Regions from separate parts of the Homo sapiens genome. Here all the other regions are linked to region 4. Evidence: fine-mapped expression QTL. A gene starts in region 4. Each other region holds a variant in brackets. All regions are shown on one strand. Distances are between the middles of the regions. Region 1 overlaps ZNF670-ZNF695 (ZNF670-ZNF695 readthrough (NMD candidate)). Region 2 overlaps AHCTF1 (AT-hook containing transcription factor 1). Region 3 has its middle 29 kb from the start of ZNF124. Region 4 holds the start of ZNF124 (zinc finger protein 124).

Region 1 (2,686 bases), 200 kb before region 4:
TCTAGAAGCTTAGTCTACGGAGGAAACATATGAACGCAGACCATTAAAATACAATGTGATGAAGATTTTAACAATTACAATGCACTGAAGTTTTGGACTGAGGGCTGTGGGAGCAATAATACAGTGCTTCGAACTTAAGTAAAATGAAACAAGAACAGTTTTACTAACATGCTGAGAACATGAAAGTTCAGAGTTTGGCATGCAAATGCTGAGGGCTGAGGAGTAATCATGAGGCAGAGGAGCTAGGAAGCATATACAACCCTCCCAAGATTTTCATTGACAGTAAGGAGTAAGCTAAGGTGTAAACTGAGCAGGAGACAGTATCAAGAAAATGATTTAAATTATGTCTCTGAGGGAATTAAGCCAAGTGAAAGAAAAATCGAAGACAACTAAAACAAAAGGGAATCTTTAAAGAGGCTAAGTCTCAAAAGAGGTAAAAGAGAAGAGAACAACTTATTCTATTAGGCGAAGAGAACAACTTATTCTATTAGGCGAAGAGAATAACTTATTCTATTAGGCAGGAGGGAAGGAGGAAACGACCATCTCTGAAGGGAAATCTCAAGGTTAAGAGAGAGAGGCTTCCCAAGCATAAGATGAACAGTTTCTGTTTTCCCATGAAGAATGAGATAGACCATCTGCTGATACTGGCTGGTGAGGGAGACGCTGAGGGAGAGGCAGGGACAAGAACTTTATTGGTTTATAATTGGTGTGCAATGTTGCTGCCCTAAGCTGCATCCTCACACATAAAAAACTTGTCCTTATGTCTCTCTTGAAATCTATGCAGAAACTAGATGTGGCACACTGTCCACATGGGGGACAGAACACAAGGTTACAGAAGCACCACAACAAGAATGAAATAGTCATTTCTACATTTGCAAAACAATTTTTTAATTAGCTAATTATTTAGCTCAATGATTGCTATATCCCTGTAGGTATATGTGCTCAAGGATCAGTTATTATTTCTTTAAATCCTTTTGAGGCATTCAAAGACATAAGACATTCTATTTCAGTGGGAATGTTGTAGTAGGCAACATTTGCTGTAAATAAACAACACATGACAAAAGGAGTAAATTACACTGGCCGGGCGCGGTGGCTCACACCTGTAATCCCAGCACTTTGGGAGGCCAAGGCGGGCAGATCACGAGGTGAGGAGATCGAGACCATCCTGGCTAACACGGTGAAACCCCGTCTCTACTAAAAATACAAAAAATTAGCCAGGCATGGTGGCGGGCACCTGTAGTCCCAGCTACTCGGGAGGCTGAGGCAGAAGAATGGCATGAACCCGGGAGGCAGAGCTTGCAGTGTGCTGAGATCGCGCC[A/C]CTGCACTCCAGCCTGGGCGACAGAGCGAAACTCCGTCTCAAATAAATAAATAAATAAATAAATAACACTGAATTTATCCTGAAGAGAAAATGCAAAGCCAAATAAGAGACCCCCAAATCAGACTGAAAATTTATTTGCCTCTATAAAGTTCAGAAAACCAGAATGAGAAGCAGCTACTTTTTAAACTTTAGACATTATAAATTTACAATTCAACATGAGATTTGGGCAGGGACACATATCCAAACTACAACAATACTTACAAAGTCAACCTCAGATCAGTTACGCACATATTTTCTATCATTCCCAGTTCCCTGCCATTCGCAAAGTTTATGAGCATTTTTTATGTTCCCTCAAGCCCCAGATATAAATGTAAGAGCGTTGTGCCAGCTAACAAAAACTTTCATATGTGCCAAAATAAATCTACTCATCAGTGCCCACTGGTATTTTAATGGCTCAATAGAAATGTTTTGTACAAGGTTGTGAAGGCCTTTATGAAAGGATACATTTTTTGTTGTTGTTTTTGAGACAGAGTCGGTCTGTCGCCCAGGCTGGAGTGCAGTGGTGTGATCTTGGCTCACTGCAACCTCTGCCTCCTGGGTTCAAGCGATTCTCCTGCTTCAGCCTCCTGAGTAGCTGAGACTACGGGTGCCCGCCACCATACCTGGCTAATTTTTGTTGTTTTTAGTAGAGGCGGGGTTTTGCCATGTTGGCCAGGTTTCGAAAGCCTGACTTCGTGATCCACCCGCCTCAGCCTCCAAAAGTGCTGGAATTACAGGCATGAGCCACCACACCCGGCAAAAGGATAAAGTTTTTAAAAGTCTTTTAGGATAGCTTTGTTATCAGGTGTATAAGCTTAATAACACTCTCTTCCAGCATCTCTATTTGTCAGAGTTTTTATGACATTGGTGATTTCATTTTGATTCTAAAAACTTTCATACATCTCATTCTGTAGCAATTAGTTTGCGTTCAGCTACAAAGAAAAGACTTTTGTATAGTATCAGAACATATGAGGTGTACTCTTACGTACTTGGGCAGCAGAACTAATAGTGCAGTGACCTTATAGTGTGCCAGTTTCTTTCCATTTCCTGTCTCTGAAATGGTCTACACCTGGTCATTGTGCTCAAGCTCACTCCTTCAGAACCCAAGTCGGCTGATCCACCTCCAGGCAATTGAATCACATTCCAAACAGCAACAAGGAGAAAAATGTGAAGCTAATAGGACAGGGAATGTTATTAAAAACCAGTGTTTTTTAATTCAGAGAAGGCCAACCTGTTCAGGCACTTCTCTCTAAATCTCATGGAGCAGAACACTATCACTCGGCCACCAATGTAAGCAGAAACATTTCTCTGTAGCAGAACACAGGAGA
Region 2 (2,686 bases), 300 kb before region 4:
GATGTAAACGTGCTGCATCTGAAGCAACACAAGACATTTTAGTAGGCACTGTTCAACAGAAGAAAGCTTCAATGAGCTACCCAAGATTAATCTGTAATTAAGTATAAAAACAACCCTCATTTAGAGGTCTACTAACAAGCAGGTAACAAGGAAAGTAAGTTAATAGTTTGCTCATGAGACAAACTTCACTCCTGTCCACTAAGCAGTCTGAAATTATTGAACAAAAATTTTAAGTATACTACTACCTGATGTAAAATTTCCTAAAATTACTGCTGCCCAAAGTATAATAAAAAGCAAACATTAAAATATTCATTTAATAATTTAAAAGTCTATAAAATGTTAAAGATAATTAAAAATTACAATTGTAACTATCATCTAACATTGTGTCTCTAAGAATGATTTAATAAACTCTTACCTAGAAATTTTTTGTGATGCTTTTGAAATTGGTGTTCCAAAAAATGCCTCAGGCAGCTCTGGAGCTGGGAGCGAATACACTATAGGAGATGGTTCTTCTATTTTAGAACTATGAAAATAAAAATTTAACTTCTGATGTATCACAAGGAGCACTGATAACAAGTGGATGAGATGGGAGAACAGAGGGTTTTCATTCGTTTTACTTTGTACAGTTCTGCATTGCTTACAAATAATAATGAACATTTCACTTTTAAAGGTTTTTAAAAATTCTTCTCAGAAACATAGCCAACATAAAGAGTTTTTCTTTTTTACATACACTAATAAACTTAGGCAAAGAGAGTGGATTGTTGATGAACGCTGTTGATGTCCAGTAAAGATTAACAAGCAGCATGACTATGAAACGTGTAAGAAAACATACCTATTGAAAGGTGTGGTGCTATTTATAGGTTCTTTGCTTGCCCAAACTTCTCCAATTTTAGATAACACATTGTTGATGAAAACAGATCTTGTCAACACAGTTCCTGTTACAACTTGCTTTGGAACTGCTGATAATGGTTTGGGTCTAGAAACTGTAAAATGAAGAACGCTGGAATTAAGTGCATCTCTAACAAACGGGAATTTAATAAAAGCATATGAAAGAATGATTACACCCCCCCCC[CCA/C]CACACACACACACACACATTACGTGGTAATACTAGCTAAAAATTTTAATTATATATATATAATTAATTTTTTTTCTTTTAGACCAGTCTTGCTGTGTCACTCAAGCTGGAGGGCAGTGGCATGATCTCGGCTCACTGCACCCTCTGCCTCCTGGGTTCAAGCGATTCTCCTGCCTCAGCCTCCCAAGTAGATGGGATTACAGGCATGGCCACCAAGCCCGGCTAATTTTTTTTTTTTTTTTTTGAGACGGAGTCTTGCTCTGTAGCCCAGGCTGGAGTGCAGTGGCACAATCTTGGCTCACTGCAACCTCTGCCTGCCAGACTCAAGTGATTTTCCTGCCTTAGCCTCCCGAGTAGCTGGGACTACAGGAATGTGCCACCACGCTAATTTTTGTATTCTAAAGTAAAGGGTTTCACCATGTTGGCCAGGCTGGTCTTGAACTCCTGACCTCATGTGATCCACCCGCCTTGGCCTCCCAAAGTGCTGGGATTACAGGCGTGAGCCACTGCGCCTGGCAATTTTTGTATTTTTAGTAGAGACAGGGTTTCACCATGTTGGCCAGACTGGTCTCAAACTCCGGGCCTCAAGTGATCCTCCCTCCTCGGCCTCTCAAAGTGCTGGGATAGAGGTGTGAGCCACCGGCCTGGCCTACATTTTGTTTCATTATAGCTATGCTGGATTTAGGAAGTTGGGCTTTTGGTAAGTGGTAAAAAAAAAAAAAAAAAAAGTTATTCTTTGTGTTTTCTAGAAGTTGGACATGTGCCTTCAACTGAAATAGGAGTTCTTTCATTATGCATACACTAGTAAATAAACAGTCAAATCTTCTAAGAAAGGCTTACATTTCTTGGGTTACAGAGCAGCCAATAAAAAAGTACCACGTGATGAATGAGTACAGGTCTACCTCATTTTATTGTGCTTTGCTTCATTGTGTGTGTGTTTTTTGTTTTTTTTTTTTTTTTGAGATGGAGTCTCGCTCTGTCACCCAGGTTGGAGTGCAGTGGTGTGATCTCGGCTCACTGCAAGTTCTGCCTCCCGGGTTCACGCCATTCTCCTGCCTCAGCCTGCTGAGTAGCTGGGACTACAGGCGCCCGCCACCATGCCTGGCTAACTTTTTCTATTTTTAGTAGAGACGGGGTTTCACCATGTTGGCCAGGATGGTCTCGATCTCCTGACCTCGTGATCCGCCCGCCTTGGCCTCCCAAAGTGCTGGATTACAGGCGTGAGCCACCACGCCCGGCCGTGTGTTTTGTTTTTTTAAACAAATTGAAGGTCTGTGGCAACCCTGTGTCCAGCAAGTCTACTGGCACCATTTTTCCAACAGCGTGTACTTACTCCACTGACTAACTGTTCCCCCGCGTCTCTCCCTTTCCCCGAGGACCTCCCTTATTCCTTGAGACTGACAATATCCAAAGCCAACTAATAACCCTACAAAGACCTCAAGTGTTCATGTGAAAGGAGGAGTCACATGTCTAGGACTTTAAATCAAAAGCTAGACCTCTTATGCCAGTTAGCCAAGTTGTAAATGCAAAAAAGAACCTGAAGGAAATTAAAAGTGCTACGTCAGTGAACACATGAATGGAGAAGTCAATGCCTGGCTTCAAAGGACAGGGT
Region 3 (2,686 bases), 29 kb before region 4:
AGCTGGGGGCCCTACAGCAGCAAAACTGAGAAGACCTGTGATGCCTGCCATAGTGGATCCCCAAGGGTCCGCACTGGGTGCAGCAAGCAGCCCATATCTCAGTCCCCAGGAGACCACCTGCTGCCAGTTCTGAAAAGCCTGGTGACCTCTATGGTAAGTCTGAGGCCATTTATCAAGACCTAGTTCAGACACAAGCACAGTAGGTCCATTCTCTGCTGACCTGGGAGCAGCTCTCTTAGCTTGCCAGCTCTGGGGGCCTCTGTGCTGCAGTGCAGAACTTCTACACCATGGACTCCCAGGTGGCCTGGGTTCCCTGCTGAGGGCTGGGAATCTCAGCCACCCTGACTTGTGCCAGGGTCCAGCCCTGGCTGGAGAAGTCCAGAGCTCCTTCTGGGAGAAAGATAGGACCAGCCCTTTTTTGGACCAAAGGTAACTCAGCCTATCTATAGATGAGATGAAGCTTGACCTGGGGGTCTCCTGACCCTATTCAGCAAAGAAAACAGGTCTGGGAGTGAAAACAAAGACTTGCTGCTTCTCAGATTCTTCTGGATGACCAGCAGTGACAACTTTAGACACACCATGTTAATAACAGAACCTGTGGTGGTTGTAGAAAAGGAATTTGAACAATATACTGAAAATGGTAAACCCAGTTTTCTTTAAGGCTGATTACTGACAAATTTTGTATTTCATATAAGACATCTGATGTCTTTTGGCTGTCTTATGACAGTCATGCATTTCTGTAAATCAGAAAATATTATTAGGGTGTAATCATTCATATATGTTTGTATATTAAAAAGAGTAGCAAAATGAATATATATTTATATCTTCCCCACTTGAACTCAGAAAAGGCTGTAGCTCTTCACTCTCCCAGGCCGAGTCCTCAGAAGATTGATATTCACCAACCTTTAATAGCATTCTCTCTGGAGAAATGCTTCTATTTTTTCAGTTTGATGAAATCACCATGCCATTGTTTTTACTTTTCATTTTCTTACACAGAATCTAAGACAAGGTATATTAAATGCTTAATGATCCTATTCTTCACCTGGCTCATATCATTTACCTAATTTTAAACTTTCTTCTACTCTAAAAATTTCAATTCATCTTATGTATTGTAGAAGATTTTAAATCTAATACAGGTATTGTCTTTTTTTTTTTTTACATATATTCTATTGGCATTTTACACTGGGATCATGGAATATTTCATTATGTAAATTATTTAATTTTTATGTAGAAAAAAGAAAATTATTTTG[GTGTT/G]TGTTTTGTTCTTTGCTCTATAATTTCCATTACATACTGATTAGATAATTTTTTGAGTATTTTAAATTTTAGGTAATTATGCATTTTATCCATAAAGAATCTGCATGTGAGAGAGAGAGCTATTTTCTCCTCACTTCTATTTCATCTCCATCCTGACCTCCCCAGAATCCTCAGCTCTTTGTGTAGTTGGATAGCAGTTTATAATTCCAGTAAATGGGCCTAATTCAATAATATACCACAAATCAGTTTGAAACCAGGACATGCCTTCAAGACACACCCAAATGCCTATATATATAATAATACTAAGTTACAATTGATGTAAAAAATAAAATTACAAAAGGATTGTTAAAGTAAATTCAAAGGGACATCAGGCCTAAAAAATCCCTGAGGAAATGTGTGATCAGAGGCTTTCCCAGGCACACACTGCTCTACAGCCCTACCACACAGGCTTAACCGAGAATTTGACCCCGGAAGGTGACGGATGAACATGTGTCCTGGTATTCTGATCTACAGAAATCCTGCCCTCTCTTAATGATCCATCCAGAGCTCTAGGATCGTTTCTAGATTTATTTACTACACACAGACTGGAAGTTTTTGACAGAAGCTTTGAACTGGGAACCCTACCCTGTTCCACCAGCTTCTCTAGAAGTACAATGTTCTAATTACTCCTGAGAGACTCCATCTGAGGGTAACTCTCTGAGCCAACAAGATTTAAAGTGAGAAGAGGAAAAAGGCAAGAGTCGGGCTATGTCTAGGATTCCCTTACCTGACTTATGTCTTTGGTTTACCCAAGTATTGATAAGATTCGTCTCTAGATGGTAGAAACTAGATGGAGGAGCACTAGCTCACAGAAGTAGACAATGGGATCAGTGCTCCATAGATCCAGCTTAAGCTCAGCCATGAGATACTAAGTCTCTCAGAAAAAAAAGTAACAGTTCTCCATCATCTACCCCCGTAGCCTCAGACAGCTAGGCAGTAAGCATGCATGCTCAATAAAACTCCACATCCACATCACAGAGAGAGATAGAACAATCCCAAAGGACCGTGAAGGGTGATGTGGAGAGACCAAAAGGATATGAACCCACAGCATCTGCCCTACCATCTGCTCCAATACTAACCCTGTCCTTTCCCAACATGATTTCCAGATTTTTCTTTGGCCCTCACTAAGGGTGATTCAGAAAGACAAAAAGTTATTAATGCCCTTCCATTCTCCATATCTCCTGAGGTCTCAGTTGTTTACTCTGCGGGTTTCGGGTAGCTATCCCTCCCCAACTACATCCACAAAATTAGTGTATCTCATTCAGCACCAAGAATTTCACCTTTATTCTGGTCACTCCCTACCTTCTCCTAGACATTTTATCTAGAAAAGCCAGATGAAATAGCGACAAAAATGTTTACATAAAACTCAACCACAACTAAGTTGGAGTATCAT
Region 4 (2,686 bases):
GACTGAAGTTGTAGCAGGGCAAGCTGCAGACAAAACCCCTCAGACACCGAGTTAAAGAAGGAAGGGCTTCATTCTGCCGGAAGCTTTGGCAAGACTCACGTCTCCAAAAACCCAGCTCCCCAAGTGAGCAATTCCTGTCCCTTTTAAGGGCTTACAACTCTAAGGGGGTCCACGTGAGAGGGTCGTGATCGATTGACCAAGCAGGGGGTACATAACTGGGGGCTGCATGCACCGGCAATCAGAACGGAACAGAACAGGACAGGGATTTTCACAGTGCTTTTCCATACAATGTCTGGAATCTATAGATAACACAACCGGTCAGGTCAAGGGTCAATCTGTAACCAGGCCCAGGACGCGGCGCCGGGCTGTCTGCCTGTGGATTTCATTTCTGCCTTTTAGTTTTTACTTCTTCTTTCTTTGGAGGCAGAAATTGGGCATAAGACAATATGAGGGGTGGTCTCCTCCCTTAAGTGATGATGGTGCCCTGAGTTCCTCACCAAGAAAACCTAAAGGTACTTCATGCCTTTCTTGTAATTAACTTGAAGGGAAAGAAAACTTAACCCCAAATCAGCAATTTACCTCTGATTACATAACCAGGAACCATCCACCTAAATAATCCGAATAACAGAACTACATAATTATAACCAATCAGTTATTAAATTGGGGTTGCTTTGGGCTGGGCGGGGTAATCCCAGCACTTCGGGAGGTTGAGACCAGAAGTTCAAGACCAGCCTGGGCAACACAGGGAGACCCCCCCCCCGCCCCACCCGATCATTAAAATAAAAAATAAATAAATTTGGTTTGTTTCCTTACACACTTTACAGAAGCCTTTCCATCAAGACCGTCCGGTGGCCCACAAACCAAAAACCGTGGCTGGGTGCTCCCCTACTCATGAATCGCTGTTTGCTCAAACTCTGTAACGCTTTAATTAAACCTCAGTTTAATTTTTAACAGGATTAAGGAGGGACTGGAAACGCCAGTGGCCACAGCTCCTCGCAGGCGCGAGCCCGCACACCGCGCTGGGCCTCTCCCCTGAGGCGCCTCGGGTCTCACTGCAGGATCCCGAGGAGCCGCGGGGCTGCGGGCGCGGGCCGGGGAGGGAAGCTGCTTCGGGCAGGACGGAAGTCGCGGTGCAGAGACGGGACCGGAGCCCGGGGTGCCGCTGCCCGCCCAGCTCTGCCGGGCGCCAGAAAGGACCGAGGGCCGCGCCGCGCCGCGCCAGCAGGGACCCGGGTCCGCCCTCGGGAGCCGACCGCTGGGAGCCCGGGGCCCGGGGCCGCCACAGCCCCTTCCCTTCTCCAGACCCCCGGCGGCGCAACTCACCATTTCCCAGCTTCCGGGGTGTCCCGACATCCTCCCTGCGAATCCCCCAGTACATGCAGGTCACAGGAGGGCCCCGGCTGCGGCAGAGCCTCCTGAACCGCCGAGAGTGAAGGAGAAGCGCAGGGCTACTGACCGAGACACGCACGTGCGGGCACGAGAGACAAAGGCCGGGCACACCCGGAAGCCGCCTCGGGTTTTCTAGCGGAGCGCCGGATTAGGCAGTCCCCGCCCCGGTGCCCCTGATTGGGTAGGGCCTCAGGCCCCGCCCCCTCAGACTCTTAGTGACAGGTGACAGCTCCCGCGCGTGTCTGAATGAGGCAGCGTTCTGGCTACAGCTCTTCTCCAAGAGGGTTTCCTCTCTGGGTTGGGACCCAGCCTTGCCTAGGGGACATTCATTTATATACACTTAACCTTGTATACAATGTTACATTCATTTGTGAATAATATATATGATATTTAAAATAGGAAACAATATAATAATAATTCTTTTAAAATTTCAGACTTATTAACCTTCATGGCCTCTGGTCTTCTGAGGAAGCAGTCTGAGGAGCCCGAGTTTTGAAAAGGGAAGCAATCCTCCAAGGCTGCGATTTCCACAGAAATCACATGTGAGCCACAGGTGTCATTTTAAAATTTCTAGTAGCAACAGAAACGAGGAATAAACAGGTAAAATTGATTGCAATACTTTATTTAACTCAATATATACAAAATATTATAATTTAAATATATGATAAATATAATATTAATGAAGTATTTTTTGTTGTTCTGTTTTTTGGTACTAAATCTTTCAAAGTCACTCTGCGTTTTAAACTTCCAGCATGTACCGATTCAGACCAGCCACATTCTAGGTGCTAAGTAGACCCCTGTGGGCAATGACTGTCACACTGAAGTGCAGTTTTGAGGGCTCTGGTTCCCCTGACCTCAGGGAGTGAAGGGCCCGAACCCCTCTTTTCTGCTAGAGGTGAGGGAATGCCCTCCTTCTGCTAACATCTCTCCTCAGGCCCAAGGGTGGCAGAGACAGTGCCCAGAGAGAGAAGTGGGCTGCAATAAAGAAGTATCTAGAGGGAGTCTACTATTTCCCACCTGCTCTTGCCAGGGGCCCAGCCTCTTCTATAGATAAGACAGTGAAAAAAAGATGAGGGGCCCCAGGAGAAGAAAACCCATGTCTTCAGATTTGTCCACAGCCTTAACCTCAGGACTTTAGATGTAGAGGGAATACATTAAAGACAAACTTCTCATTTTGCAATTTGGCTTTGGCCCTAATGGTCAGGCTGTGGTTTTCTGTTTCCTCCTGTGGTGTGGAATTTAAGTGTGTGAGTTTAAGCACAAATCACATGCATGTCTACGTGCACTTCTGTATGGC

Evidence for each region.
Region 1: its variant is fine-mapped to the expression of ZNF124 in visceral fat (GTEx, PIP above 0.99). The same link has a PIP of 0.9 or more in breast and skeletal muscle.
Region 2: its variant is fine-mapped to the expression of ZNF124 in skeletal muscle (FUSION, PIP 0.92).
Region 3: its variant is fine-mapped to the expression of ZNF124 in blood mononuclear cells (TOPMed, PIP 0.90).

The regions. Positions count from the first base shown.
Region 1 is chr1:246,975,435-246,978,120 of GRCh38, forward strand. The region is part of intron 5 of ZNF670-ZNF695 (ZNF670-ZNF695 readthrough (NMD candidate)); the gene reads right to left. It also overlaps a transcript of ZNF695 not described here. Among named protein-coding and RNA genes, the nearest start is that of ZNF695, 31 kb to the right of the region's middle. The variant A/C (reference allele first, on the strand shown) is at 1,320.
Region 2 is chr1:246,866,829-246,869,514 of GRCh38, forward strand. It overlaps AHCTF1 (AT-hook containing transcription factor 1), which reads right to left. Exons shown (of 36, transcript NM_001323342.2): 25 at 833-983; 26 at 416-523. Among named protein-coding and RNA genes, the nearest start is that of AHCTF1, 64 kb to the right of the region's middle. The variant CCA/C (reference allele first, on the strand shown) is at 1,073.
Region 3 is chr1:247,141,698-247,144,383 of GRCh38, forward strand. It overlaps a transcript of ZNF124 not described here. Among named protein-coding and RNA genes, the nearest start is that of ZNF124, 29 kb to the right of the region's middle. The variant GTGTT/G (reference allele first, on the strand shown) is at 1,251.
Region 4 is chr1:247,170,525-247,173,210 of GRCh38, forward strand. It overlaps ZNF124 (zinc finger protein 124), which reads right to left and starts at 1,496. Exons shown (of 4, transcript NM_001297568.2): 1 at 1,324-1,496. The coding sequence starts at 1,353.